Homo sapiens: one gene and its partners. The protein of the gene in region 3 purifies or fractionates together with the protein of the main gene of each other region. This does not show direct contact. Each region holds a gene or a part of one and is shown on either strand. Other genes may lie near its edges. The genes, in order: CLGN, UBAC2, SLC12A6, RAB6A, SCAMP1, LGALS3 and AMFR.

Region 1 (4,316 bases), on a different chromosome or scaffold from region 3:
TATCACTAATCATCAGGGAAATGCAAATCAAACCACAATATGATACTACGCCATATTAGGACCTATTACAATGACTACTATTTAAAAAAACATAATTTTGAACAAATGTTGGCAAGGATGTGTAGAAATTGGAACCCTTGTGCCTTGTTGGTGGGAAGGTAAAATGGTAAAGCCACTGTGGAAAACAGTATGAGGATTCAAAAAAAAATAGAATTATCATATGACCAAGCAATTCAACTTATGGGTATATACTCAAAAGAATTGAAAACAAGGTCTCGAAGAGTTATTTGTATACCCATATTCATTGTAGGATTATTCACAACAGCCAACAGGTGGAAGCAACCCAAGTGTCCACTGACAGATGAATGTATAAACAAAATGTGGTGTATACACACAATGGAATACTGTCCAGCTTTAAAAAGGAAGGAAATTTGATACATGCTACAACATGGATGAAGCTTCAGGGCATTATGCTAAGTAAAATAAGCCAGTTACAGAAAGACCAATACTGTATGATTCCACTTATATGCAGTACCTAGAGTAGTCAAAATCATAGAGATAGATATTAGAAAGATGGTTTCCAGGGGCTGGAGGGAAGGGTAGTGGGGAGTTGTTAAAAGTGTATAGCGTTTTAGTTTTAGAGCATGAAGAAAGTTTTGGAAATTAGTTGTACAACAATGAGAATGTTTTACCACGTGATTTAAAACAATTTTAAATGCATAAATTAACTACTTCATTTTCTTGTAGTATTACCCCAGCATCTGACCTCTCAGAGTTTCAGTACAGACTTGTCAATAGCATACCTCTCTCTAAGAAATGAGATGTCACAAACCTCATAGTTTTGTTTGGAACTTAATAACATGTTGGCACCATTGTGAGACAGATTTCAAGACTGTGAACTTCAGTATCTAATTCTCAATTGTCAGCTGGTGCAGCACTGAAGAATGATAGGATACTGCAGCATTACGCAGAAAGTATTAAGTCTGTATTTCTGATTTTTTTTTTTAAAAAAAAGAACAAATAAAAACAATAGAACTGCATTGTCTACAGAATGCCTTCTAACCAATTGCAGTTCTTTAAAACTCTCTGTTTTTGTTTTGTTGATTAGGAATAGTACCTACGCTATTCATGTCCTGGGCTGTAAAGATTAAATTAGCTAGTTCTTTGATGTAAATATAAGATCATAGAATTTTAAAGAAGAAACAAACTTTCAAGATAAAGTGTTTTCTGAACTGTTTTCTGAAGCATTGGCAACTATTTCTAAGGAAAAGTCAGGAAAAACTATAATATAGAATACAAATAAAACTGGGGTGCTCTGGTTGAGTTAAGGGTAGAGTTCCAGATAGAGCACTACCTGCTTGGCTTCCTCTTAACTCTTTCTTGGCAGCCCAGTACACCAGAGTTCAAACAAAGCACTTAGAATGTTTTTTTTTCAACAAATTAATTGTTTGGAACCTAAAGTGTACATTCATTTGAAAGAGAGGATATGGGTCTAAAGTTATATTAATGTTCATTATTAGTAGTATTATTTTATGTGTTTTTATTTTGCTCAAAAATGATTAATAGCCAGTCAAGCAAAGTGCCTTTTACTATGTAACATGGAAGGCCCTTAGGCTTTTAGAACAATGAAGCTTTTAGAGTTCACAATTAATAAGCAATTTGCAGATATACAAATTTCTGTGCCAATAACTAGGAAATTAAGGAAATAAGCCTATTTCATTGTGTCAAATTGATCCCTTTACATTTACTTCCTATCCCAGTTATACCTCTTTTGTGATTTAGAGAGATCAAATCCTAGTTAATGACAGCACCCATCATTTTTGTCTTTGTCCATAAATATATAAGTAATTATGTAATTGTGGAATTATAGGAATTATATATGCAAAAGAACTTTCTCCATAGCAGTCTACCTGATTACAATAAGCCCTATATTTGTTTGATCTTTTGAATGTGCTTTGATTTTAGTAAAACTCTACCACATTAAATTTGTGATAAAAAAATTTTTGTATCTTTTCTCAGCATTTATATATAAATGTATTTTGGTTTTATAATTATAAAATTTCCATTTTTATGTTTATATACACTTAAGCAACATTATAATAAAAACAATTTCAGTGAACATTTAGGAATCATGATACTTTTAAAGAGGTCTACATATTATTTGTGTTTGATAACTACTATCATCTTTATCTTTAGATTTTTTTTTTATTATACTTTAAGTTTTAGGGTACATGTGCACATTGTGCAGGTTAGTTACATATGTATACATGTGCCATACTGGTGCACTGCACCCACTAACTCGTTATCTAGCATTAGGTATAACTCCCAATGCTATCCCTCCCCCGTTCCCCCACCCCACAACAGTCCCCAGAGTGTGATATTCCCCTTCCTGTGTCCATGTGATCTCATTGTTCAATTCCCACCTATGAGTGAGAATATGCGGTGTTTGGTTTTTTGTTCTTGCAATAGTTTACTGAGAATGATGTTTTCCAATTTCATCCATGTCCCTACAAAGGACATGAACTCATCATTTTTTATGGCTGCATAGTATTCCATGGTGTATATGTGCCATATTTTCTTAATCCATTCTATCATTGTTGGACATTTGGGTTGGTTCCAAGTCTTTGCTATTGTGAATAATGCCGCAATAAACATACGTGTGCATGAGTCTTTATAGCAGCATGATTTAGAGTCCTTTGGGTATATACCCAGTAATGGGATGGCTGGGTCAAATGGTATTTCCAGTTCTAGATCCCTGAGGAATCGCCACACTGACTTCCACAATGGTTGAACTAGTTTACAGTCCCACCAACAGTGTAAAAGTGTTCCTATTTCTCCACATCCTCTCCAGCACCTGTTGTTTCCTGACTTTTTAATGATTGCCATTCTAACTGGTGTAAGATGGTATCTCATTGTGGTTTTGATTTGCATTTCTCTGATGGCCAGTGATGATGAGCATTTTTTCATGTGTTTTTTGGCTGCATAAATATCTTCTTTTGAGAAGTGTCTGTTCATGTCCTTCGCCCACTTTTTGATGGGGTTGTTTGTTTTTTTCTTGTAAATTTGTTTGAGTTCATTGTAGATTCTGGATATTAGCCCTTTGTCAGATGAGTAGGTTGTGAAAATTTTCTCCCATTTTGTAGGTTGCTTGTTCACTCTGATGGTAGTTTCTTTTGCTGTGCAGAAGCTCTTTAGTTTAATTAGATCCCATTTGTCAATTTTGGCTTTTGTTGCCATTGCTTTTGGTGTTTTAGACATGAAGTCCTTGCCCATGCCTATGTCCTGAATGGTAATGCCTAGGTTTTCTTCTAGGGTTTTTATGGTTTTAGGTCTAACGTTTAAGCCTTTAATCCATCTTGAATTAATTTTTGTGTAAGGTGTAAGGAAGGGATCCAGTTTCAGCTTTCTACATATGGCTAGCCAGTTTTCCCAGCACCATTTATTAAATAGGGAATCCTTTCCCCATTGCTTGTTTTTCTCAGGTTTGTCAAAGATCAGATAGTTGTAGATATGCGGCGTTATTTCTGAGGGCTCTGTTTTGTTCCATTGATCCATATCTCTGTTTTGGTACCAGTACCATGCTGTTTTGGTTACTGTAGCCTTGTAGTATAGTTTGAAGTCAGGTAGTGTGATGCCTCCAGCTTTATTCTTTTGGCTTAGGATTGACTTGGCGATGCGGGCTCTTTTTTGGTTCCATATGAACTTTAAAGTAGTTTTTTCCAATTCTGTGAAGAAAGGCATTGGTAGCTTGATGGGGATGGCATTGAATCTGTAAATTACCTTGGGCAGTATGGCCATTTTCACGATATTGATTCTTCCTACCCATGAGCATGGAATGTTCTTCCATTTGTTTGTGTCCTCTTTTATTTCATTGAGGAGTGGTTTGTAGTTCTCCTTGAAGAGGTCCTTCACATCCCTTGTAAGTTGGATTCCTAGGTATTTTATTCTCTTTGAAGCAATTGTGAATGGGAGTTCACTCATGATTTGGCTCTCTGTTTGTCTGTTGCTGGTGTATAAGAATGCTTGTGATTTTTGTACATTGATTTTGTATCCTGAGACTTTGCTGAAGTTGCTTATCAGCTTAAGGAGATTTTGGGCTGAGACAATGGGGTTTTCTAGATATACAATCATGTCGTCTGCAAACAGGGACAATTTGACTTCCTCTTTTCCTAATTGAATACCATTTATTTCCTTCTCCTGCCTAATTGCCCTGGCCAGAACTTCCAACACTATGTTGAATAGGAGTGGTGAGAGAGGGCATCCCTGTCTTGTGCCAGTTTTCAAAGGGAATGCTTCCAGTTTTTGCCCATTCAGTA
Region 2 (4,316 bases), on a different chromosome or scaffold from region 3:
TCCCAGATCCCCATCAACAGCTGCATGCCCCTGGACAAGCAAGCACTCCCCTGAGCCTCCGGGGTCATGAGGGAATACCTGCATCTCTCTAGGCGTACACCGGGCATAAATGAGATAACATATACTGAGTACTTACTATAGGACTGGCAAAATAAATGGTGGTGGTCTTCTTACTGATAAAGAGTGAAACATGCTAATTCTGCAAGAGAGACAGGACCTAAGCTCCATAAGAAAAAGGACTGGGGGCTATCTTTTTTACACCTGTGTCCTCAATGTCCAGCTCTAGGCCTACCATATAATAAGCACTAAGTACTTATTTGTTGAAAAGTAAATGAAAATAAACTTTTCTCCTGGTATTACATTCCAATACAACTGCACCCTGTACGGTACTCGTGCATGCACACAAATACGGCAGATAATTTCCAGTGGTGGTTTAACAAAAGAGTTCTCTACGTGGTGATTTATCATACTTATGTGAAGAAAACTGAGACACAGCTGAGTGAAGAAGTTCAGCAGGAGGCTAAGTGCTCAGGTTTGGGTGTACCCATGTGCGGACCCTAGAAGAGAACTTAGGAAGCTTAGGAAAAAATCAAGAGTCTGGTCTGTGCTGCCCAGCAGACCACTCAACGTAAAAGCCCAGCAAGAGCCCAGGGGCTGGTGTCCTGCTCTGGACTTCAGATCTGTTAGTGAGACCATCCTATGAAAGTGGAGGAGTCTGACAGCAGTGTAGACAGCCATAAAGGCCTGTGCCACTTCACAGGCGCCTGGTGGGAATGCACGCTCCAGCAGGGCAGGGGTTTGGGTCTGTCTCATTCCCTGAGGCCTGGGTACAACCTGGCAGATCCCGTGATGTTCCAAGTATCTGGGGGGAAAGACACCGTGCGGAGTTTACAGCAAGGCAGGAAAGGAGAACCACAATGGGGGTCCGTAGAATCCTGGAGCGAGGGCGTGCGCAAACAGCCAAGAATCCCACTTGCATAAACTGCTGCTGCACCATGAAGTGCCTGTCTGTAGGCCACAAAGTGAGCATGTGGTCAGCAGTGGAGACCCACCAAGTTACCAAGCCAGGTGGGCCGACAGAAACCCATCATCAGATGGACACGGGCATCTGGGCTCAGCATAGGTGGGGCTGCAGGGCATGGGTGAGCTGCAGAAGCAGGCATGCCAGACCACCCTGGCAGCCACCTCTGCTGCACCACAGCCTCTTCCCAGCTAACACCGACTACCACAGCTGGTGGGCCCCTCATGACCAAGTGACAGAGGGGAAAACAGCCAAATGGACAGGCTGGCTCAGGACATGAGTGGCAGCTGAAAGAAACGGCTGCATGATGGCTCAATCTTGAAAGACAGCGATCAGGGGAACCCCCTATGGGCAGAGCCTGGGCAGCACATTTGGTCATCAACTCTGTGTGAAGAGAAGTGGCCTGAGGCAATTACACGTGTGGATCTGCTGGGCATGGCAGATCACCTGGTTGGTCGGTCAGGGGACTGGAAGGGAGGGAACAAGGAGGATCCAGCTAAAGGAACAGCATCAAGTGTCTTGCAGGTCGTGCCCACCACGGGCATCCACCACAGAAAAGGCACCAAATGGAAGGTGGACAGAATGACTGTGGCTCCATCACCAGATAACCCAGCGCTGGCACACGAATGGATGGCCATGGTGGTAGCACAGAGGAATGTGTGGGTCCCCCTCACCTAGGCCGACCTATCTCCTGCCACTATGGAGCATCCAACCTGGCATCCACAGAGACTGTGTGTGCCTGATAACTACCGTCTGCAAGCAGAACAGTCACTCAGCGCCGAGACTATGCTGGGCCCTTTCCACTCTGCAGTGTTATGGAACACACTGTCTCCCACCCCTTGCCCCTGCCCCAAATTCACACGCTGAAGCCCTAACCCTACGATGTGACTGTATTTAAAGGTAGGAACTTTAAGGAGGTAATTAAGGTTCAAAGAGGTCGTACGCATGGGACTTACCCAACAGGACTGGTCCCCATTTTGGGACAACTCAGAAGGGCTCTCCCAGCTTCACTGTGCTCCATAAGACCAGCGAGGCTTTTGCTGGAACTGCAGCTGCTCCCTCTGTCCCATCTTGCTGCCTTCGCCAGCCCGCCCCCATAGATACTGATGCTGACGGTGTTCTCTCATAAACTCTTTGTATAAAAATCTTCCTGGGGAGGCCAATCTGAGAAATGCAACTTCTCTGGTTTGCTTATGAGGACAAATTCAAAGCTCTCCAATGGAGAATCTCCTCCCAGGATTCCAAAGGTATCTCAGACAACATATTTCCCCCAAATCTGCTCTTTTGATATTGGTGAAATGGAACTATCAGTCATCTATCTAAGATTATCTAGGCCAGAAACATCAGAACCATCCCCTACTTCTTTCTCTCCCTCATAAGCTCTGTGCCTCTACCTTTATACTCAATCACTACTCAGTTTTTCTGACCTTGATCATTCTGATTTCTCATACCTTTCGCTCTTCTCTCAGTTTCCTTGAAGGATTTACCTCCTGCTAAATACGAGGCTTCATCTGTAGCCTGTGTTCATCTTGGATGTAGCTCTTCTCTTACAGAACTTACTACTTCTTTGCTTTCGGCTCTCAGCTCTCATCCCTACAGAGGTGACTCCATCACCTATATATATATGTAGCTTCCACATTTCCAAGACAGAGATGTCCATCCTCCAGCTTTAAATACACCATGGGCATCTTTATGGCATGTTCCAGAGTCACTCAAATTCAAGCACATCTTTAAGAAACAACTTTTGCTTCTCTATTTCTCTTGTAGACTCTGCCCCTAATAAGCTGCCCCCTTCCTCCCCCCCCCTGATATAAACTCTGGGACCTGCATCTCCAATGGGACTCTAAGGACCTCAAACCTGATTTCACTTCTCCAAACCATCGTGAGATCTGCAGACCTACTTCTTGCATCCAATGCTAGTGGAAGACAGAGAGATGGCAGAGGTAACTGTACGGTTTACAACTACCCCAGGGGTAAAGAAGGTGGAGGCGAAAAATGGGGAGCCCTGTGGGCTGGCTCACAGAAGTGTCCAAGAAAGATCAGGCCTGAGGTTTTAGCCTGATGTGCACTAACCCTCCTTCTCTCACTGCCCATGGAAGACAAATGTAGTATCAGATTGTTTGGATGCAGAATTTGTAGACAAATGTGCAATAATTTCTGATTATTGATAGCAAGGTTGAGAAAACACAGCATTTTTTTTTATCTACTCCTTGGTTGTTCCACTGAAAATCTTCTTGCCTTCATATTCTCTTCATTTCAACCAAGGAAAATCAAGAAATTTTACATTTGTTCTTCACTCCATAGCATATGATTAGCATTTTAACAGGAAGACACTGTGGCTTTTACAAGATTATAAAAACAGATAAATAGCACATCTTGTTAACTAGGTTGGTGTTTCTCTAAGAAGTCATGCTTATCTAATATAGGTGGAACAAGAATGTCCAGTTTGACCAATCTTTCAGCTGCAATTTATTTTTTACCTTTTTAAAAAACTAAGAATGGCCACTAACAGAGACCTACAATCTCTTTGGAAATGTCAAAATCCACTTGCAAGGCACTGGAATAAAATGTAGTCTCTATCTCACATGCAATCACAGAGGAAAGATTTGCTTGGGCCACTGAGAATTTCTAAATTTTTAGTGATTATTATCACTTTTACCTGCTGCTGTCTCTGTCGCCTCCCTTGTGCAAACTGAGAGAACATCAGCTGCCGGTCCAGCAGCTCCATTCTCTGCTGTCTCTGGATGTCCAGCGTGGCTCCCATCCCAATTCTGGCTTCGCTGGTGGGTTCTGAAGAAGAGAAGATGGGTTCAAGTGTCCAAGAAAAGAATTTTGCCATCCAGCTGGGGATGCAGAGCACCTGATGCACCTGGAACATTTTGCTGTCGTAGCACAGACCGGACATCTAGAAGAAAAACGTCCAATGTGATTGTTTAAATGTAGTATTATTTTAAAAAATGTACACGACTCAAAAATCAGCAGCCTCCAGACACTGCACACGGTATTTTTCTTAGTCATAGCAGTGTTAGGCAATAAGCAAAATCCTCTACCACACTGCAGAACACTAAGCAGTGCAAATCAACACAAAATTGAACTTAGTAAAACAAAATTGTTTTTTATTGAATTAGAAGAGCTAGCAAAATTCTAATCATTTAGTATTCAAAGTTCTGGTAAAAGATTGTCAAGACACTGTCTTCATTTTTTAAAAAGCCGTAAAAGATCTGATTATTGAAACACTTTCACACTGTACTGACTCTGCGGTTACCTTTGTTGGCAGATGGCCATCACAGAGACA
Region 3 (4,316 bases):
TACCTATATCACTATATTTTGTTTTTATTTACATATTATCTTTCTCAACTATGCTGTAGGGTTCTTGAGGACAAGGATACAAAATCATTTACACCTAGTGTAATATGTGATATCACATATAACTTGTACACCATAAATATACATTGAGTTGAAGATCTTGTAGACTTAAAAACAAGAGACAAATTAAAAACGTACTCTGATAAAGGCATATTAATGTATGTACGAGAGTAGTGCTACTTCATCTGGCTGCATAATGAATGATCTAGAGAGCTTTTCAAAAAATGCCTCTAGGCTGGGCGCGGTGGCTCACGCCTGTAATCTCAGCACTTTGGGAGGCCAAGGCGGGCGGATCACTTGAGGCCAGGCGTTCGAGACCAGCCTGGCCAACATGGTGAAACCCCGTCTCTACTAAAAATATGAAAACTTAGCCAGGTGTTGCGGTGCATGCTTATAATCTCAGCTACTCAGGTGGCTGAGGCATGAGAACCTGGGAGGCGGAAGTTGCACTGCAGCCTGGATGACAGAGCGAGACTCTGTCTCAAATAAATAAATACCTCTACCCTGACAAACAAAACCTAACAAAAAACAAAATTATCATTTTTAGTCACACACCAAAATAAGTGAATTATATTGTTTTGCTAATCATAGGTGACTATTACTTATTATTATTATTGTTATTATTATTTTTTGAGACAGAGTCTCACTCTGTCGCCCAGGCTGGAGTGCAATGGTGCGGTCTCCACTCATTGCAACCTCCGCCTCCTGGGTTCAAGTGATTCTTCTGCCTCAGCCTCCCCAGTAGCTGGGACTACAGGCACGTGCCACTACACCCAGCTAATTTTTGTATTTTTAGTGGAGATAGGGTTTCACTATGTTGGCCAGGATGGACTATTACCTTTCTCTTAAATAAGTCTTCTATATTATATAATTATTGAATACTATCCATGTTTTACCTCAGCATTCTAATAGCTAAAATATGTTGATTTGGTACCTTCTTAGCTTGTCTGAAAGAAGCATCCTCTTGATAGTTTTGTTTTTTTTGTTTTTGTTTTTGTTTTTTTTTTGAGACAGGGTCTCATTCTGTCAACCAGGCTGGATACAGTGGTGTGATCACGGCTCACTGCAGCCTCAACTTTCTGAGCTCAAGCAGTCCTCCACCTCAGCCTCTTGAGTAGATGGGAACACAGGTGCACACCACTATGACCAGCTAATTTTTTTTTTGTAGAGACAAGGTTTTACCATGTTGCCCAGGCTGGTCTCGAACTCCTGCATTCAAGCAGTTAGCCCACCTCAGCCTCCCAAAGTGCTAGGATTACAGGCGTGAGCCACCGCGCCCAGCTGGTTATATACCTTAACTGTTTTTCCTCTCTTCTCTATACTCTGTAGCCAGATTAAACTTTATAATATACTGCTTTATACCACAAGAAGCAATCAGCCAAATCCAGAATATGGGAAGTTTTATTGGATAACTAGATTCTTCAACAAATAATTGGGATGGGGTGGAGGAGGAGTGATGGGAAGAGAGGGAAAGCTGTTACAGATAAAAAGAGCCGTATCAGCCAAATGCAGTGTGTGAACTTGGTTTGGATTCTGATGTGCATAAAACAATTGAAAAAAGATACTTTTGAGACGAGTGGGGGAAATTTGAACATGTACATGATATTAATATTAAGGAATTGTTAATTTTCTTATAGATGTTTATGACATTGTGATAATGTAAAGCTGTTATCTATAAAGATATATATTGAAGTATTTACAGGTTAAATGAAATGTACTCCAGCTCCTTCCTCCCCACTCCTCCCCAAAAAAGTTGGGGAGAGATAGACAAAACAAGATTAGCAAATGTTTATAATTTGTTGAAGTAGAGTAAAAGGTACATTTTACTATTTCTTAGCTTTTATCTTTGAAGATGTCTGGGAACTCCTGAGCTCAAGTGATCCTCTCACTTGGGTCTCTCAAAGTGCTAGGATTGCAGGCATGAGCCACCATGCCTGGCCAATTTTTAAAAAGGTTAAATTACAATTAAAGGATTTTCTTTTGAGTGTGTCCTAGAATGCTGTAGATATTTGATTAAATATCAGTGATCAATACAGTGATTACCTCAACTTCTTGTCTTTGATCTTCGGTGGTCTCTTCTGTGTCCTCACTAAGTCTTTCCATCATGAGCCCAAATTCTTTTGTTCTCAGTGGCATGTTTCTAGATTCCAGATTCTCATAAATTTTGATATTACCTTTACTGGAATGGAAGGAAATGAAAGAAGGTACTCCTGCAAACCTGGGAACCTTATGAAAGTTATGCTTTCCCATTTTAAAGCTGTTAGAAGAAGGGGAATGTTTCTAATGCTGATGTTTAAGGCAACTTATAATGCTGTAAGCTTTTGAATTATGGCTGCTGCTTCTTTTGCCCTTCGTGTCTAACATATACTTCTGGACTACTAAGAACTTTGTGCAAATTCTAAAAAGGCACTCCTTTGTGCCCTGAGCCATCATGACTTCACTGGAGAAGGGCAAGCTGGATTTCAACCCTCTTCCCCTTGCCCTTCTGGCTTAATGCCCTCGTGCACTGTCTACACAGCTGTAGCTGGTGAGCTTGTTGTTTCAGAATAATGAAGTTACATGAGTTTAAGTTTTTGGTGATGTGTGTTTCTGAGGAGTAGGTATGAAAGTTTGGAGAGCTATAGTGTAGGAATTATGTGAGCATTTGAATGTTAAAACAATGTATTCTTTTAATGAAGTTTTATAAGTTTTACAAGTATGTGGAAAAACAAGAAGCTATTCTCTGTTAAAACCCTGTAATTAGTGCTTCAGTGTATATATGTTTTTATTTTTTGAGACAGGGTCTAGCTCTGTTACCCAGGCTGGACTTGGGTAGGCAGTGGCTATTCAGAGGCACAACTGTAGTACACTGCAGTCTTGAACTCCTGGGCTCAAGCCATCTTCCCACCTCAGCCTCCTGAGTAGCTGGGACTACAGGCATGCACCACCATGCCCAGCTAACTTTTGTATTGGCTTTTGGTAGAGATGGGGTTTTGCCATGTTGCTCAGGTTGGTCTCGAACTCCTGAGCTCAAGCGATCTGCCCATCTCGGCCTCCCAAAGTGCTAGGATTACAGGTGTGACCCACCGCACCTGGCCCTGGTATACTTTTAAGAATCTCAACAATTACATTTGAAGGTACAAGCACAAAACTGCAGAACATACAACATATACACATGCATACAGCACCTTGCCTTAATGGTAGTTCAGTACCTGATGAGTAGGAAACACTATCACCATATTTGCTCAGCTCTAAGGTGTGTACATTACCATATTTTAACATTTCTGATATTCAGGTGCGTCTTACTTTTGAAGAATTTTTAAGCTACTGTTAAAGTGGAATTTATACTTAACAAGATTTCAGAATCAAGTCAGTATTGTAAATAAGTCAGTCTGAGGGGCTTTGCGAAACCTGAAGTTTTGAAGTTACCTTTGGATGTCTTAACTGAAAAAAATGTAACGGCTGAAGTTTTTTTCTTCTTAAAATTTCAGTTTTTGTAGTTGAAAACTGTAGAAATAGAAAACAAAAGCCACATTGTTAGGAAATGACAGGTCTTCTAATTTTAGTCTTTTTTTTTTTCTTTTTAAAATTTCCTGTTATCTTAGCTCAGAGCTGGGTTTCAGTCTCCAGTTTTCTAGCTAATTTAACCAATGGCAGCTTTTTGTTTGTAGTTTTATTACGGCATTGCTAATCCTCATTATATTTGTCGTGGCCTTGAGCAAAAAACTCAATTGATGACATTCACCTGTTTATAGTCATAACCATTTGGTAAATAACTTTAATTTTTGGCAAAGTAGCACCTGAATTTCTCTCATTTTACCAGACAGGTCTACATTTACTTTGGGGTAAAGCTATTTATTTTTCATATTGCTAGTTTAAAAAAAGAGAGAAGAGAGAACACTAATAAGTTAAAAACTCTTATGTACACATCCACGTTTTCACTTTGAGGAGCTATGAGAAATTGAATCTAACCAAAATTTACTTTTATTCTATTTTGAGAGCATTTGCATTTACCATATCTAATTTTTTTTTTTTTTGAGACAGAGTCTTGCTCTATTGCCCAGGCTGTAGTGCAGTGATGCGGTCTCGGCTCACTGCAGCCTCCGCCTCACAGGTTCAAGCAGTTCTCCTCCCTCAGCCTCCTGAGTAGCTGGGATTACAGGCGCATGCCACCATGCCCGGTTGATTTTTGTATTTTTAGTAGAGACGGGGTTTTACCATGTTTAGGTCTCGAACTCTTGACCTCATGATCTGTCTGCCTCGGCCTCCCAAAGTGCTGG
Region 4 (4,316 bases), on a different chromosome or scaffold from region 3:
CCCGAATTTCAATATCCATCTCATGAATAAACAAATAAATAGTAAAAGCTCTTACTATTAAGTAGTATGGTCAAAACTATTTAAAGCAGAAAGAATATGCAGTAAATCGCTTAAGAATGCTGAAAGCAAATATTCAAGCCATGGGTCCTACAGTGAATGTTAATATATTTTGCATCCTGTGACTTGAATATCGCTTTGCTCATTTGACTAAGGTATCACAATCAAGCTATTCAGTGCAACTACACAGTCTGGCTCAGCCACACAATTAAAAACCAACAACCAAAAAACAAAAATCCACACCACTGAATTATAATGAATGTTTTATAAGAAGACTACTAAGAAAAGAGTGTGCATTTAATCATTATGAACAATTTTTAAAGATAAGGTTTTTCCAAAATGGCTTGCTCTTTAACAAAACACTTTTCATACTTATGAGATCTAAAAAAAGCAAAATATTTACTGGCTTCATGTCTAAACAAACTTGCACAAGAGTTATTTACACATGGGCTTAAACAAAATAAAATTCATTTCCCTTAAGGACTGGCTGTTTAATATTTACATTTATATTTGAGGTTCCCATGCTAAAGAAAAGCAGGGGAGGACGTAAACTTAAGGATTAAGCATGTCTCCTTTCAAAACAATTTCTCAGTGAACAAAAATAAAAGGCTGCATCACAGAAATCAAACATTACACACATATAAAATAACTCCATACCTCTTGTCAGCAAGATCTGTTTTATTTCCTACTAGCATGATGATAACATCACTTCCTCTTTCTGTTCTGACATCATCAATCCACTTTGTAGTTTGCTGGAATGAGTTAACATCTAGTATAGGAGGGTAGACAGAGAGATTAGTGTTGCTGAAAAATGCCTCCCCAGGTGGTGGGCACCTCCCTCCAAAAAAGCCCTGGAAGTTGGAAGGGGGCTGGCACATTAGTACCCCACTTTTAATGTGCCTGCAACATAACTCCATTTTATCTGATTACAACTGTCAGCAATTTAAACAAATTACAAGAATAAAATCTTCAAGGTTCCTTTTAGAGTAGTTTAAAAATTTTTTGAACATGATCAAATGAGTACAATGTAGTATTTAATTGAAAAAAAAACAACTTTTTGAAATATAAGGACAGCTATGGCAGATAATATGGTGTCACATTGCCACAATGCTTTTTTGATCACTTACACATACCAAACATGACAAAGAAAGCATTTTCCAAAGTATGTCAGCCAGTAAGTCCCAACACATCCAGAAAATCTGTAAAGCCTTTCAATAGCTTTCAACACCACTGTTTGCACTGCTTCCTCAGTTTGTGATCACTTTAACCTAAAGTTTATTTGTTTAATGCATCAGAAACACTTGTAACAAAATTTATCTTTTCTAGTGTTGGATTCTAAGTAGAGTACTTCAACACTTCTTACAGCAGCTAAAGAAAACAACGTACTAATATTTGAATCACATTTGTGGATTTAAAAAAAAATACACCAGGTTTCACTTGCTGTGGTTAAAGTAAGCACAAACATTTTAAAGCTACAAAACGTGTCAATGCACAATATGAACATACCTCTTTTTTTTAAACAAACAGCAACCCAAAGTAAAGGTGCAAAGGAAGAAAGACTGCATATAGCACCTATCTCAAAAAAAGTCCTTGAATGCAATCTTCTAATTTTGCCAGCACAATTATTCGTTATTAGATAACAATTCCTAATTGAGGAGATATGCAAGAATGCATAGTAACAGTATTACTAGTCCAAATGAATAGTTCCTTTGTCTATTTAAGATTTTTTTTAGCCCAAGATACTACATCTGTGTAGTGTGGTACACATTTTTTAAAAATTTAAAAAGAAAGCCCCAGATACTGGGCTGGGCACAATGGTTCATGCCTGTAACCCTAGCACTTTAGTTTTTGTTGTTGTTGTTGTAGTTGAGACAGAGTTTTGTTCTTGTTGCCCAGGCTGGAGTGCAATGGCACGGTCTTGGCTCACTGCAACCTCCGCCTCCCAGGTTCAAGAGGTTTTCCTGCCTCAGTCTCTCAAGTAGCTGGGATTACAGGCATGCACCACCACACCTGGCTAATTTTGCATTTTTAGTAGAGATGGAGTTTCATCACGTTGGTCAGGCTGGTCTCAAACTCCTGACCTCAGGTGATCCGCCTGCCTTGGCCACCCAAAATATGGGGATTTCCGGCGTGAGCCACTGTGCCCGGCCTAAACCTAGCACTTTAGAAGGCTGAGGCAGGAGGATCACTTGAACCCAGGAGTTCAAGACCCTGGTTTTCCTATAAGTTATGAACCACTACATGTAATAATGTTTAATATTGCCTAATATATGTCATAAACCAATTTACAAAGGCAATTTCAATCAGAAAGCATTTTCTTGTCAGTCACCAATGCTTCATGGAAAATTTACAATCACTTAAAAGGCCACAGGCATTATTCAATCTTTAGAAAAAAGAAAAAGACTACTAGTTGTTTCACCTCCTATTTAAAATTTTTTTCTTGGAGAGAAATGAAAGTGTAATTTGTTAGCAACAAAGTAAATAAATCAGTCACAGAACCAAAATATGATTCAAATAAAAAAGATTAATAGAAAACTGTACATTATGTTTTCTCTGTCTTCCTCTACAGAGAGAGAATGGCTGGAAGGGGAAAGCAGAGAAAAGCTGGCTAGCAGAAGCTTGTAATAGCCTCAATAGAAAGCTTGGAGGATTTGGAAAACCTGGCAAGAGACTTAAATGCAGATCATTTTATTTTAGAGAAATCTGAGATCAAGGAAACATTCCTCCAACTATAATTATGGTATGGTTTACGAATAACAGGATACTAAGAAACCCTTGAAGAGGATTCATAGTTGGACCCAAAAGAAAATTTCTGGGGCAAAAAACCTGGCACAGTTACATATAAAGCATATTGGTATAAACACCAAAGCAAATATTTCTGACCTGGCTGGTATGTAATTTACTATGATAAAACTTATTTTTACATGCCAGTAAGGAAAACAAGCACAAGACAAGAACATGCATGCAGCTAAGCTAAAGGTTGAAAGAAGATTAGAAATGCATAATTCCCTCCACTCACTTGTGATATCATAAACAACAACTGCCACAGTGGAGTCACGAATGTAGCTAGGAATCAAGCTCCTGAACCGCTCTTGACCTGCTGTGTCCCATAATTGCAATCGTACCTAACAACAAAATCAGTCAAACAAGCAAGAAAAATAAGAAAGGTCAACCCGTTGCAATATACCTACTTGTGATATCGTAAACTACTACAGCTGCAGCAGAATCACGGATGTAACTGGGAATGAGGCTACGGAAACGTTCCTGACCCGCAGTATCCCACAGCTGAAGCCTGATCTGTGAGATGGGAAAAAATAAATAAAAAAAAAAAAACCAAACTAATACTAAAAAGAAAAAAGAAACAATGTTTTTTGTAAAAGGGAGAGGGTGGGAAGGAAGTAGAAAGAAGACTCATGCAAGAGGTTGCAGGGAGTGAGGAATGAAAATAACACAAAACTCCTTTTTCAAAAGGGAGAAATATTAAAAATTTGCATACTCCAAACATAAATGACTGGAAAATGCCACTGGGAAAAATTTCACAGAATCAGAAATATGGCTTCCCTTTTTCCCTACCTAAAACCTGTTTGAATCCCTATGCCTTTCAAGTGGCAAAAAGTAGACTGTTGATGGTTAAATAGAGAAAAAAACAAAACAAAACAAAAAAACCTAAGGTAAATGTCAATGAGCAGCCTAAGCTATCAGAGTAAAGGAATTAATGCTTCTTTGAAAGCTTCTCTCAAGCTAAAATGTGTCTCTTTCCTATTGGGTCTAGAATACTTTCAAACCTGTTTTTTAACTACCGTGCTTGTATTTCTCCCATACATTTTCCCCAGAACATGCGAGTGTGTGCGCGCACGCATGCACGCGTGTGTGTGTATAATGTAACAAAAAGGAGGAAGATCTTTTTGCAGCCCTACATAAAAATGTCTTTACGTACTATCCATATCTATATTACAGGAAGAAAAGCCTGAAAACAAGTATCAAGTTCTTGCATCATGATAAAGTCGTTTCCAAGCTTTCAAATTTTTTTTTTTTTTTTTAGACAGACTCTCATTCTTGTCGCTCAGGCTGAAGTGCAGTGGTGTGATCTCGGCTCACTGCAACCTCTGCCTCCCGGGTTCAAACGATTCTCCTGCCTCAGCCTCCCGAGTAGCTGGGATTACAGGCGCCCGCCACCACGCCCAGCTAATTTTTGTATTTTTAGAAAAGATGGGGTTTCGCCATGTTGGCCAGGCTGGTCTTCAACTCCTGACCTCAGG
Region 5 (4,316 bases), on a different chromosome or scaffold from region 3:
GAATATCTCGAAAAATACTAATGAAGAGTTAAAAATAGACTATCCATTAGGAAACACTTCTCACATTCCAAAACAACTTGACATACATGAAGAATGCTCCTAAAAGATTTTAAGGAAAATTATCTCATCCATTAAGGGAAGGGTGGTAGTCTCATTAATCATAAAGTAAAAACAAGTAAATTTCCTCCATCAAGAATGTACCCTACAAATTATCCATTAACCCAGATGTTGTGCATGTGAGAACCCTCAATAGCTACCTCCCCTTCTGACAGGGTATCAAAATGAGGCTGAGACTACTGTTTGGAATAAAAATGAAACAGAGAGTAAGTGGGAGGTCTGTGCACACAGAGTAAAACTGTTAACGGCTTGACATTTTGTTTCAGTATTCCATGAGTTATTATACTCAAAGTGATGTAAGCATCAGAGCCCCAAACGTATATTCTAATGTTCCGTTCAACAAAATGTCCTGTATTAATTAAGCACTTTCAATAATAAAAGTATCGCAATTGAAAACAAAAAGTAAACTGTACTCAAAGCTATAAAAAGAACACTTAGTTTATGTAATAATTTTATGCCCTTTTAAAAATAGCTAAAACGCCTACATTTAACAGAATTCTTTTAAATGGCCTTCCTCTGCATAAAATTAGTATGCACTATTTTTTCCAAGCAAATCATGTCTAGATAACATCTTTCAAGGAAAAAGAATCTTATAAAATTTTACCCACATGACAGAGAAGTTGTCTTTTCCTCAAAAGAATGCCAGTTCTCAACATACAAGTTTTTCTCAGCCAAGGACTTACATTGTCACATATAGTACAATTCTGAAGTACCTAAATAGGATATGTTTCACTCTGAAATCATGATTATTAAGCTTTATCTATAGAAAAAGAAGACTGGTTTGCTATACTATCCTTGAAATAAAAATGCGGATTTTGACAACAAAAATACAAATTCTAAGCAAAGATGTAAATTGTTGTATACTCACACATCCACAAGTAGTACATAAGCTTTACTGTCTTTTGGAATTCTACAGGAATGTCTACAGAAAAATCCTGATAGAAACAAGGTCCGACAGGAAAATTGCTAGGAAGAGGTGGCCAATTATTTTTTCTACCTGTAAATTTTTTTTAGAAAAAGAAAAGGTTATTTATATTATAACAAATGTGATATTATTTTTTGTTTCATAATAAAGAAAAACTCTATTATGTTAACAAAAGTTCAGAAAAACTGTAGAACTATATCTTTGTATTCCTAGAACTCTGAAAGACAAGCTTTAGATTTTTAAAAAATTTTCTCAGAATATCATCACCTTAGAGCACATTAGATAGTAAAATAATTTTCCAGTGTCATATCATACCATGTTTAGCAGGAACCATTTATGTACAGAAAAAACAAGAAACAAAAAGAAAGCACATATCCAGTGCTTCTACCCTAAAACAGATTTATTTCACAGTCCAAAGAGTCTGGCTGGCATGAAAGGGCCATCCAGTTTTTAAACTTCAATTTTCTCCTCAGCATCTTAAATCTTCAAATATAATTCTGTTATAATTCCTATCTCAAGTGGAGAAAGACTAGCTTCTAATTTTTTCAAGTTTTCTGTTAAGTCCAAGATTAAACCAATACCAAAGAATCAAATTTAGAATACTCAAAATCTGGGAAAAAATAATATCCAAAAGATACATGTACGAAAACCCTACAACAAAGAAAACATGAAACAGTCATGATAAGGAAGCTGAAGAATTATAGAACCTTTAAAAATGCAGAGAAAAACAAATTCAAACTGTAAAGGGAAAAAAATGTGTCTACATAAAGAAACCAGATTAAAAATAAGACTTGAGAAATGGTGGGGGAAATAAAAAATTAAAATAAAGAAGTCAAAACATGAAAATAGCGGGTAAAAACAGCACCTAAGGCCATTTCCCGATTTTAGATGTTATATCCCACAGTTTTTAAAAATTCAATTTTACCTACTTTTCCCAGACCAGGGTAATTTTTATAGAAAGAACAATAACCTATTTCTGATTCTCCCCAATGAGTCTCCTGTGTTCCATTTATCATACTATTCAAATTTCATATAGTTCATTTCTCATACCAATCTCATACTATTTGAGAAGCGGCAGTGAATACTCGTAAAGAAGAGAGGCTCTGGAACCAGAAGTGGCTAGCCACTTACTGGCAAGGTCGCCTTGGGCAACTTACTCTCTCCTCCGAGCCTTAGTTTCCATATCTGTAAAATGAGAATAAAAACTCTATCACCCCTCACAGGATTGTATTGATGATTTAAGTATGAGTTAAGAGGGGAAAAGTACTAAAATGTGCTAACATACTGCAGTCTAATTGTTAATTTCCTACTCTTTGTTACTGTCTTTACTAACATAACTCTCATAGAAATAGTTTGTATTTGCCAGTGCTAAAGAAATAGGATGGATTTTAGTTACAGGTACTTCAGAAACATTGGTCCCAGTTCAACTTTTAGTTTCTCCTTCTATAGATGCTACCTCTGATGCTGCAAGCAAGAAAATGACCCAGGATAAATGTGTTCTCATGAGGCCCTAGACTTACACATTCTAAGTTAAAAAGAAATAGTTCTGTATATTGTTATTGTTCTAGCTTTGCATTGCATCACTATCCCAGACATCCTAACAATGACTTATCTAGCTCTTTTATCTCTTCTTACTCAGAGACTGCTAGCTTTCCCTAAGAGACTCCTTTGAAGTGCTTTGGCAGGCACAAACTTAATAGAATTCACTGCAACAATTCACCACTTATTTCTTTGGCATCATATGAATACCTTAGGCTTCCAATTTTTCTAACATGATTTGACAAAATACTTGCGAGGACTGGGGCAGATAATCTGAAATTAACCTGAATAAATCAGGTAAAAGTCAAATGTAGGGTACATGCAAATGTACTCATAAAGAGTCCACAGAACCAAGGAGGGCCTAACTGCAGAATCAAAGGCTCCTGGCCTCAGAGTAAGCAAAAATTATCATATTCACATTCATTTTCTGTGTGATGAGGCTAACACTGTTCTAAGCTATCAACAAAAGACTATGCAAATCAGCCAAGATTAGAAGGCTACAGAGTATCAAACAGGCAATCTGCTGTGTCTGATCTCCTTGTTAGAACAGGAAAACAGGGTAGGGTTTTATCCACAGGCCAAATGACCTAGGAGCTAGTATAGACATAATGTAAAGTATTTAAAAGTTATTTTTATTTCAAATTTCTTTGGATACTACCATGTTGACTGAGGTTTTGCATTTCTCGTTCCCGACGATCTAATTCTGCGGCTTTTCTTTCTAGTTCTTCCTGGCGCTTAAGAAGTTCAGCTTGGGCCAATGCATGTTCCTAAATAAAAAATATCAATATGTGAATAGACTGTCAGAAGTATAAAATACTTTAACATTTATATGCTAACTCCTACTTCTCTACTATGAGAGAAACCTAATTCAAACACACTTCCAAAGTACAGGAATTTACTGAAGATCATAGTTACAGAAAATATTATGAGGATATTTGGTCCATTTGGTCTTTGGGTTCCAGAAACTCTCAGTGGGAATGTTGGGTCCATTAGGAGAGGAAAACTTCTCTTAGTAAAAGTAGTCACAATCTTTAGGTAATCTGGAAAATGAAATTAAGATGACCTCTATGCCTAAATGAGTGAAGAACAGAGGCAATGGGAACAGTTGAGGAAAATGAACAATAGAAAAAAGGGCAACTGAATTGGCTCCTATTAATCAGATTAAATGATATATAAGGCCACCAATGCAAGAATATTTTCTAATATCTTAAATGTTATAGGAGAATGAGGTCAAAAGATGTGATTAAGAAATTCTTTATAACTCAATTTGCCCTTACATGCTATCAGGCATCTTATTAATCTCCTTTCTTCTCAGATTTTTGCCATCTTCTACCTCCTAACACTGTTATTTTACCATTGCAACGCTCTCCCAATAATATCTATTATTCCATCATTTTTACCTTAATGGTAGTGTGCATTAAAAAGTGGGACCAAAGGCAATAAAAATTTATCCACTGAGATGATACATAAATTCAATAATTCCTAATAATGGAATAAAGCAAATGGTATAAGCTGACAAAAAGAGGAATGAGTATTTGAAGGGTGACAAGACAGCAAATCCAGACTTGAAAGTGAGTTAAAAATTAAGCAACAGAAATGTAACCATATAAAGATTTATTTTGCTCTGAAAGCAAATGTTATTGATATTATAATGGCCAATATGAATTTATACAACTAACATGAACTAACCTTTGCAATCTGTGTATAAGCTGGATGTTCCTCTGTTGGTTTCATT
Region 6 (4,316 bases), on a different chromosome or scaffold from region 3:
TTCCTAAGCTCAGGATCACCTGTGCCATGGCCTGAATTACCTGGACCTTGAAACAACCAGAATATCCTTCTCTTTGATTTGCCCACCTGTGATATTTACTCAATCACTTTTAGAAATGGCATCGGCCCCAAGGGATCCAATAAATGTCCACTACTTGATTCAAATGCAAGATATTGGCTGGGTGTGGTGGCTCATGCCTGTAATCCCAGCACACTGGGAGGCCAAGGTGGGCAAATCGCTTGAGCCCAAGAGTTCAAGACTAGCCTGGGCAATATGGCAAAACCCTGTCTCTATGAAAAATACAAAAATTAGCCGGGTGTGGTGGCGCATGCCTGTGTTCCCAGCTACTCGAGGGGCTGAGGTGGGAGGATCATTTGAGCCTAGGAGGTCAAGGCTGCAGTGAGCTGTGATGGCACCACTGCACTCCAGCCTGGGTGACAGAGCGACCTCATCTCAAAAAAAAAAAAAAAAAAAAAAAACCATAAAATATTACCTTATTTTTGGTAAAACTCAAACAGGCAGAGCTCCTCCTAGGGCTTAACATATGCTTCATTTATACACACTGGATATTTTATACAGGTTGAGTATCCCTTATTTGAAATAGGACCAGAAGTGTTTCTGATTTACATTTTTTTTTATTTTGGAATATGTCCTTATGCCCAGTTAAGCATCCCTAATCTGAAGAGCCAAAATCCAAAATCTCCAGTGAGCATTTCTGTAGAGCATGGCCTCTGAACATCATGCAGGCATGCAAAACGTTTGGGATTTTGAAGCATTTCAGATTTCTGCATTGGGGATGCTCATCCTTTACTATACTGCTATTATTTATATCATAGTCAGACATTACCTTTGACTAAAATATTTTTGCACATCTTTTTTTTTTTTAGACAGGGTCTTGTTCTGTTGCACAGGCTGGAGTGCAGTGACATGATATCAGGGCTCACTGCAGCCTCCACCTCCCAGGCTCATGTGATCCTCCCACCTCAGCCTCCCAAGGAACTGGGACTACAGCCACACAACACCACACCCAGCTAAGTTATTTTTTTTTTTAGACACGGGGTCTCACTATGTTGCCCAGGCTGGTCTCAAACTCCTGGGTTCAAGTGATCCTCCCACCTCAGCATCCCAAAGTGCTGGGATTACAGGCATGAGCCACCGCATCCAGCCACACATCTCTTTTTGAACATGGTCATTCTGAAACCTATTCAGAAGTGGTTAGGTTATGACCATGCCCATTTTCCAACCTAGGGAACTGCTGGCAGCTTGACAGGGAAGTCACGGTGACTCCAGAGGTTACTGCATCTTTCATTTACGTTACATCCTGTAGTGCTTGGCTTTTTAAAGCAAAAGTTGTGAGCTCCTCTGCATGTGCCTCCTTCCCCAAAAGGCTGCCACACTACCGTATAAGAAACCGTATAAGTTGCTACTGCAGGGGGACCTTGAGAGAAGAGTTGTTACAGAAAAGGAAAATAAATGAAAATTTTTAATTCAGAAAAAGAAAGTCTCCCTCATTTTGGATGCCATACGAAACAATCTTGAACTTCAAGGTGGGCAGAAAGCTTAGTTCCTTTAATTACACATACTTCTTCCACCCTAAGGCAACATATCAAAGACCCAGCAATAACGTTATCAACATTTTGATTTCTTTTAAATGTCCTCATTGCACAGGAGCTTATTGTGAACCTCAGCACCACTGACACTTCAGGTCAGATGCTTTGCTGTGGGGCGCTGTCCTGTGCACTGCAGGATGTTCAGCAGCATTGCTGGCTTCAATACATATGCTGCCAGAACTCCAGCATACCACACTCCAACTTGTGACAACCAAGTGTCTTCAGGCCAGGTGTGGTGGCTCACACCTGTAATCCCAGTCATTTGGGAGGCTGAGGCGGGAATATTGCTTGAGCCCAGGAGTTCAAGACCAGCCTGGGCAATACAGCAAAACCCCAGTCTCTACCAAAAAAAGGAAAACAAAATGTCTTCAGACATTGCCAATATCCCCTGGGAGCAAAATCATGGCTAGTTGAGGACCGCCAATCTAGCTAGTTAGCAGTGTATCCCTACATGAATGTACACACGTGGTTCAATAAAAACCAAAAAGGTAGTTTCAATTGTTAAAACTAGCTGAATTTGCCTTATAAAGGGTCCTAACATAACTCTATTCAAATTAAGATGTGTTTAAAGGCTGATTCCAACCAGAAAGTCAAATAAAGAAGGCATTTCCATAATTTAATATTTATTCTTTTCAAAGCCTCTGCTCAAGCATGTTTAGTTTATTTTCCAATCTAACCAAATCCAGTTTGGGAAACAAAGCAGATCTCGTTGCATTTCCACTGTTTCAACACCACCTCGGAGGGCAGTATAGATTGTGTCTCGACACATTAGACAAGGCCACTAGAACAAAACCTGGCATTTGTGTGGCGCTTTTCAGCTTATGAAGCATGTTCACATACCTTATCTATTTTAGTTATAATGACATTCTTTGTGGTGAAATCTTGTACTGTCCTGCCATCTCACTGTCCAGCCTGGGACATGAATCATCCCTATGTCCAGCCTATCTACACTGTAGATGCTACCCACCCACAAGTCACTTAGTAGCAGGCTTGGTTATCAGATCAAAAAAACAGTATATATAGGGTTTGATACTAACCATGGTTTGAAGCATCCACAGGGGGTCTTGGAATGCATCCCCTGAAAATAAGGGGGAGACTACTGTGTTCTCACCATAAGGAAACTGAGGCTCAGAGAGATAACATGGTGGCCCAAAGTCATCTGTCATTGGCAGATCAAGGAGTAGGGCTCGTGTCTTTTTACTCCTTATTTAGGCTCATTCTACACCAATAGAAAACATCACACTTTGAAATTTTAAAGTACAGTCCTTTGAAAGTGTTAATTACTTCATTGTGAAATTAATTCTCTGACTTACTCATCTGTAACTACATAACATACTGAAATTGTAAACAAATTTTTTAAAAAGGATTGTGTTTTGGTCAGAAAACTAACTGGGTGATTCATTCAAGCACAAAATAATATTGAATATTGAATACAAGAATGCCATTTTGTATAGTCATTTGCTAATTATAATGACATTTTAACCAATAAAGTGTACTTTTCCAAAAATTGGGTATGCCCCGTCAACTTCCAACCATGAGATTTCTTTTTTGAAAAGCATTATAGGCCGAGTGCAGTGGCTCATGCCTGTAATCCCAGCACTTTGGGAGGCGAAGGCAGGAGGATCATGAGGTTAGGGTTTTGAGACCAGCCTGGCCAACACAGTGAAACCCCATCTCTACTAAAAATACAAAGAATTAGCCAGGTGTGGTGGTGGGCGCCTGTAATCCCAGCTACTCAGGAGGCTGAGGCAGGAGAATCGCTTGAACCCGGGAGGCAGAGGTTGCAGTGAGCCAAGATGGCACCACTGCACTCCAGCCTGGGAGACTGCGAGGCTCCATCTCAAGAAAAAGAAAAGAAAAGCATTATAACTGATGCTCTTTTGAAATCAAGATTATTAACCTCAAAACTTTCAGGAAAACAAAAAAGACATCTATTCAGATAAGTATCATCCTTACTTGCCTGAAATTTTTTTCTTTTTTCTTTTCAGATGAGTAGTTTACAGAGAGAGACATACAATCAAATGTCACAAATCTTCCCACTCTACAGACACTATAGATATGTGAACCCCACCCTGGTGTTTCCAGGATCAGAGAATTTTGAACAGTCAGAGGGGAAAAAAAAAAAACTTCAAAAAATAAACTAAAAGTAGAGAAATACTAGCTGGGTCTCCACATTTGTAAACACCTACAGTAAGCAGTTCAGTGTAGCTTCAGAATAAGGAATTTAAACATGAGTTAGAATACAGACCATTTTAATCGGCTGTTAATTGGTAGCTTTTCCCTTTAACAAAGAGTAGCTATCCGCTGCACTATGCTATTCTAGGCCCACCCAGCAATCAGTCCAGTTGTCTGGGTTCCCAGGAACACTTCTGAAATGTCTGCTCATAAAGGTCCCTGACCTGTGCGCAACCGTCACAGAAGAAGACTACTTCCTGAGCCCCTAGGCACTGCCCTACACTGCTCCTCAAGTAACACAAGAGGCAGTCTACTTCCTGTCCTTGCTGAAACACAGAGCAGGACTTGAGGAAAGCCCATTTGCCAAAGACAAATTCAGTGATGCTAAGTTGGAATAAGGGGAACTGGTCCTTTCCTAGGATTTCTTTCTCATCATAGCTCCCTGGCATCAAGGAAGGTAGAGTTACTTTCTGCTTCTCATGACTGATCTTCCCCCCTACGGAAAAGCTGAACAGTTCAAAAGAGAACACA
Region 7 (2,797 bases), on a different chromosome or scaffold from region 3:
GGTGTAAAATGGAAGGGCGGACTGAGAACTTCACTTCTTGCATCATTTTAAGCTACTTAATAAGCTCCTGCTCTAAACACTGTGATATGGCTGTTTTGTAATGTGTCAAGACCCTCTAAAATTGATCCAAGTAATTTTCTCTTTTCACACATCAGAAACCTGTGAACATGTGGAATTAGTGGCACCTACAATGGGTGCAACGTGTGAAGTATAATGTAATTCGAGGACAGTAAAATAATCTTTCGCTACACACTTACCTGAAAAAAAAAAAGATATAAATACAAGGGGAAGAAAAATGTAGTTCTGCCTTCCCCAAATACACTACTAGGAAAAACAAAAGTTCCCAATTCAAAAACATGGGAAAAAACCCTCCAACCAAAATAGTATACACAAAATCCAAATCAAAATGGGGTTTAACGTTGGCACCTCTGGAAAAAGATGCCTTAGCTTCCAGCCACACAAAAACATGCCTTAGCTTCCAGCCACACACAACACACCAATAGAGTTTGCTTTTTATTATTATTATTGTTTTACAATAAAAACAAATAGCTATGCTCTCAGCAAAACAAATTAAAAAAAAAAATCACAGAAATTTACTAACAGCATTTCAAGGTAAGGCTTTTGAAAGATTTATTGAAATAAATTATCTTTGCCTAAAAATTTACCTATCACCTTTTTCAATTACTTTTCAACATTCTAAAAACTTTCCGTTATGTAAAATACATTTAAACTTTGCCAATAATTGTGGATAATACTGGATTCTTCCCAAAAGGACTACCACAAAACAAAGCTTTCAAAGAGTAAAAAAAAAAAAAAAAAAAAAAAAAAAAAAAGTAATCCAATGGGGCATAAAACTGAGGTCTGTAACCTATGACTTCATGGTTCAAATCCTTAAAGTTAAACATGTGAAGAATTTGAAGAGATTTGGGACCTGGGCCCTCTCCAAGGCAGGTAGGTTCACACCTTACCTTCTCTGCTGAATTAAACCAGGAATAACACAGCTAGGAAAACGCAGTGCTCCCAGGATAAAAGATACAAAAGTTCTTTTTTATTTCTTTAATAAAGCCCTTCAAGGTTTACTCTCCCATCTTGCAAGGCCCACATCTTGTTCAAGGACCAAACCCACAGGCTTTAGCACTGCCTAATTTACTTCACCAATGAATGAAAACCATAAACCAAAGCTTGCTGCCTAACCACTCCCCAGGTCCAGACGGGACAAGGAAATGCTGAGAGGGGAGGGGACCCATGGGGCACACTCATGAGATGCAGGAGCACCAGAGTTCACGGAAATCAAGCCGGCTTTGGACTGGAGGCTCGGAAAGTCAGTCCCAGATGTAGTGGGACAGAAAGGGGTGACTTCATCACACCCTATAGCCCTGGACTTTCCCCTCCTCTGCTCCAGGTATCGAACCAAGAGTTCCTTTTCCAAGATGCCCTGCTGGCTCAGGGGTGCATGAGCCCGTGGGTCTGGCCTCTGGCACAGTCTACATGCTTCCACAACAACGACAGCAGTTTGATAACAGATGTTACCCCACGACGTGGGGGCGGGCTCACACTGTGCGCCTCCCCCACACTCTTCCCACTGGGTGTGGTGCTCAGGACACCTGCATTTGTGGGACGTACGCATGAGGCAGGAGTAGAAGCTGCCTGCTGCAGGCAGGCGACTGCTCACTTCCTCCTGATCGTCCCCCACCCCAAGCAGTCCAGTCAACACCAGAAGAGATCATACCTACAGTTAAAATTTGCAGTGTTTCTAAGGGGAAGAGAAATGTCACATAGAAAGTATTACAAAGAAGGATTAAATTTATCAGCTGTCCAAACACTATAAGACCACATGCTTTATACAGCGGCAATGCAGTCAAGCCCGCTTTTCCATGGAGCGGGCAGAATTGGGACAGGCCTCCTCCAGTCAGTCGGGCACAGGGCGCAGGAGGCAGCTGAGGAAGGCAAGGGAGCGCTAGGAGGTCTGCTGCTTCTGAAGCCTCCGTTCCGCGGCGGCAGCCAGCATCCTTCGACGCAGGGTCACGGGGTCAGAGGACGCACCTTCCGAGGGGAGGAAGCTCTCTGAGGCCGCATCATCTTCAGAACTTTTGTTCAAGAAACGTCTAGAAAAAACAGAAGACTTTTTCTCTCTCATAGGAGAGATGGGGAGCTGTGGAACACAGCCAGAAGGTTGATTTCACATCTCCCCATGTCCAGGCACCTTCATGAAGCTGTCACTCAGCACCACCCAATGACCAAGACATCCAGCCCCCAACAGATGGGCGCAAATTCTCTCTGCACCAGGGAGGAACCCTTCAGTGCTGTTCCCTGCTGTCTCTTCCTGCCCATCCCCTCCACCCACAGACACAGCACAGAACTCCCACAATCACAGGGTCTGCCAGGGCCCAAACCCACTTGAGGAACACAGTGCTGGCCCTGTCCTTAAGAGCTGGAACAAAACCCCCTCTATCCACAGGACACACCTGCTGTAGCTGCCACCAACCATGGGTGTGTGACGCACAGATGCGCTGAGTGTGTGTACAATGCTCAGCTGAAAGGCAGAGTGGTCAACAGGGAGGACCTGGGAGACAGACGCCAGGGCCAGGCCAGTGCTAACCTCTCCAGCCTCCATTTCTTCAGCTGTATGTCAGCTGAATGGGTTAACAGTGCTCCCTCTTAGAGCTGTTAAAGTAATTCATATAAAGGGCTTAGATCAGGTTAGCACACAAGTGCTCTCTCGGCAAGCGTGGCCAAAGGGGTCCATGGGAGATGACTGACAGTACCAGCATCAGAGGTAGACCAGTGGGGCCCAGTG

What was found.
Region 1: the proteins of SLC12A6 (region 3) and CLGN purify together in Homo sapiens (affinity purification with mass spectrometry; 3 studies listed by BioGRID and IntAct, with this or other methods). This does not show direct contact.
Region 2: the proteins of SLC12A6 (region 3) and UBAC2 purify together in Homo sapiens (affinity purification with mass spectrometry, with the first as the bait; one large-scale study listed by BioGRID). This does not show direct contact.
Region 4: the proteins of SLC12A6 (region 3) and RAB6A purify together in Homo sapiens (affinity purification with mass spectrometry; 2 studies listed by BioGRID and IntAct, with this or other methods). This does not show direct contact.
Region 5: the proteins of SLC12A6 (region 3) and SCAMP1 purify together in Homo sapiens (affinity purification with mass spectrometry; 2 studies listed by BioGRID and IntAct, with this or other methods). This does not show direct contact.
Region 6: the proteins of SLC12A6 (region 3) and LGALS3 purify together in Homo sapiens (affinity purification with mass spectrometry; 5 studies listed by BioGRID and IntAct, with this or other methods). This does not show direct contact.
Region 7: the proteins of SLC12A6 (region 3) and AMFR purify together in Homo sapiens (affinity purification with mass spectrometry, with the first as the bait; one large-scale study listed by BioGRID). This does not show direct contact.

The regions. Positions count from the first base shown.
Region 1 is NC_000004.12:140,417,245-140,421,560, reverse strand, and holds part of CLGN (calmegin precursor), read left to right. Parts: intron 1-4,316. UniProt on the Homo sapiens protein: Functions during spermatogenesis as a chaperone for a range of client proteins that are important for sperm adhesion onto the egg zona pellucida and for subsequent penetration of the zona pellucida.
Region 2 is NC_000013.11:99,339,930-99,344,245, reverse strand, and holds part of UBAC2 (ubiquitin-associated domain-containing protein 2 isoform 1 precursor), read right to left. Parts: intron 3,927-4,316; coding exon 3,681-3,926; intron 1-3,680. UniProt on the Homo sapiens protein: Restricts trafficking of FAF2 from the endoplasmic reticulum to lipid droplets.
Region 3 is NC_000015.10:34,327,415-34,331,730, reverse strand, and holds part of SLC12A6 (solute carrier family 12 member 6), read left to right. Parts: intron 1-4,316.
Region 4 is NC_000011.10:73,715,537-73,719,852, forward strand, and holds part of RAB6A (ras-related protein Rab-6A), read right to left. Parts: intron 3,355-4,316; coding exon of another isoform or gene 3,249-3,354; intron 3,183-3,248; coding exon 3,077-3,182; intron 827-3,076; coding exon 715-826; intron 1-714. UniProt on the Homo sapiens protein: The small GTPases Rab are key regulators of intracellular membrane trafficking, from the formation of transport vesicles to their fusion with membranes.
Region 5 is NC_000005.10:78,415,573-78,419,888, reverse strand, and holds part of SCAMP1 (secretory carrier-associated membrane protein 1), read right to left. Parts: coding exon 4,271-4,316; intron 3,349-4,270; coding exon 3,240-3,348; intron 1,115-3,239; coding exon 986-1,114; intron 1-985. UniProt on the Homo sapiens protein: Functions in post-Golgi recycling pathways. Acts as a recycling carrier to the cell surface.
Region 6 is NC_000014.9:55,131,724-55,136,039, reverse strand, and holds part of LGALS3 (galectin-3), read right to left. Parts: intron 2,689-4,316; exon of another isoform or gene 2,686-2,688; coding exon of another isoform or gene 2,648-2,685; intron 1-2,647. UniProt on the Homo sapiens protein: Galactose-specific lectin which binds IgE. May mediate with the alpha-3, beta-1 integrin the stimulation by CSPG4 of endothelial cells migration.
Region 7 is NC_000016.10:56,360,952-56,363,748, forward strand, and holds the end of AMFR (E3 ubiquitin-protein ligase AMFR), read right to left. Parts: intron 2,106-2,797; coding exon 1,958-2,105; 3' UTR 501-1,957; downstream 1-500. UniProt on the Homo sapiens protein: E3 ubiquitin-protein ligase that mediates the polyubiquitination of lysine and cysteine residues on target proteins, such as CD3D, CYP3A4, CFTR, INSIG1, SOAT2/ACAT2 and APOB for proteasomal degradation.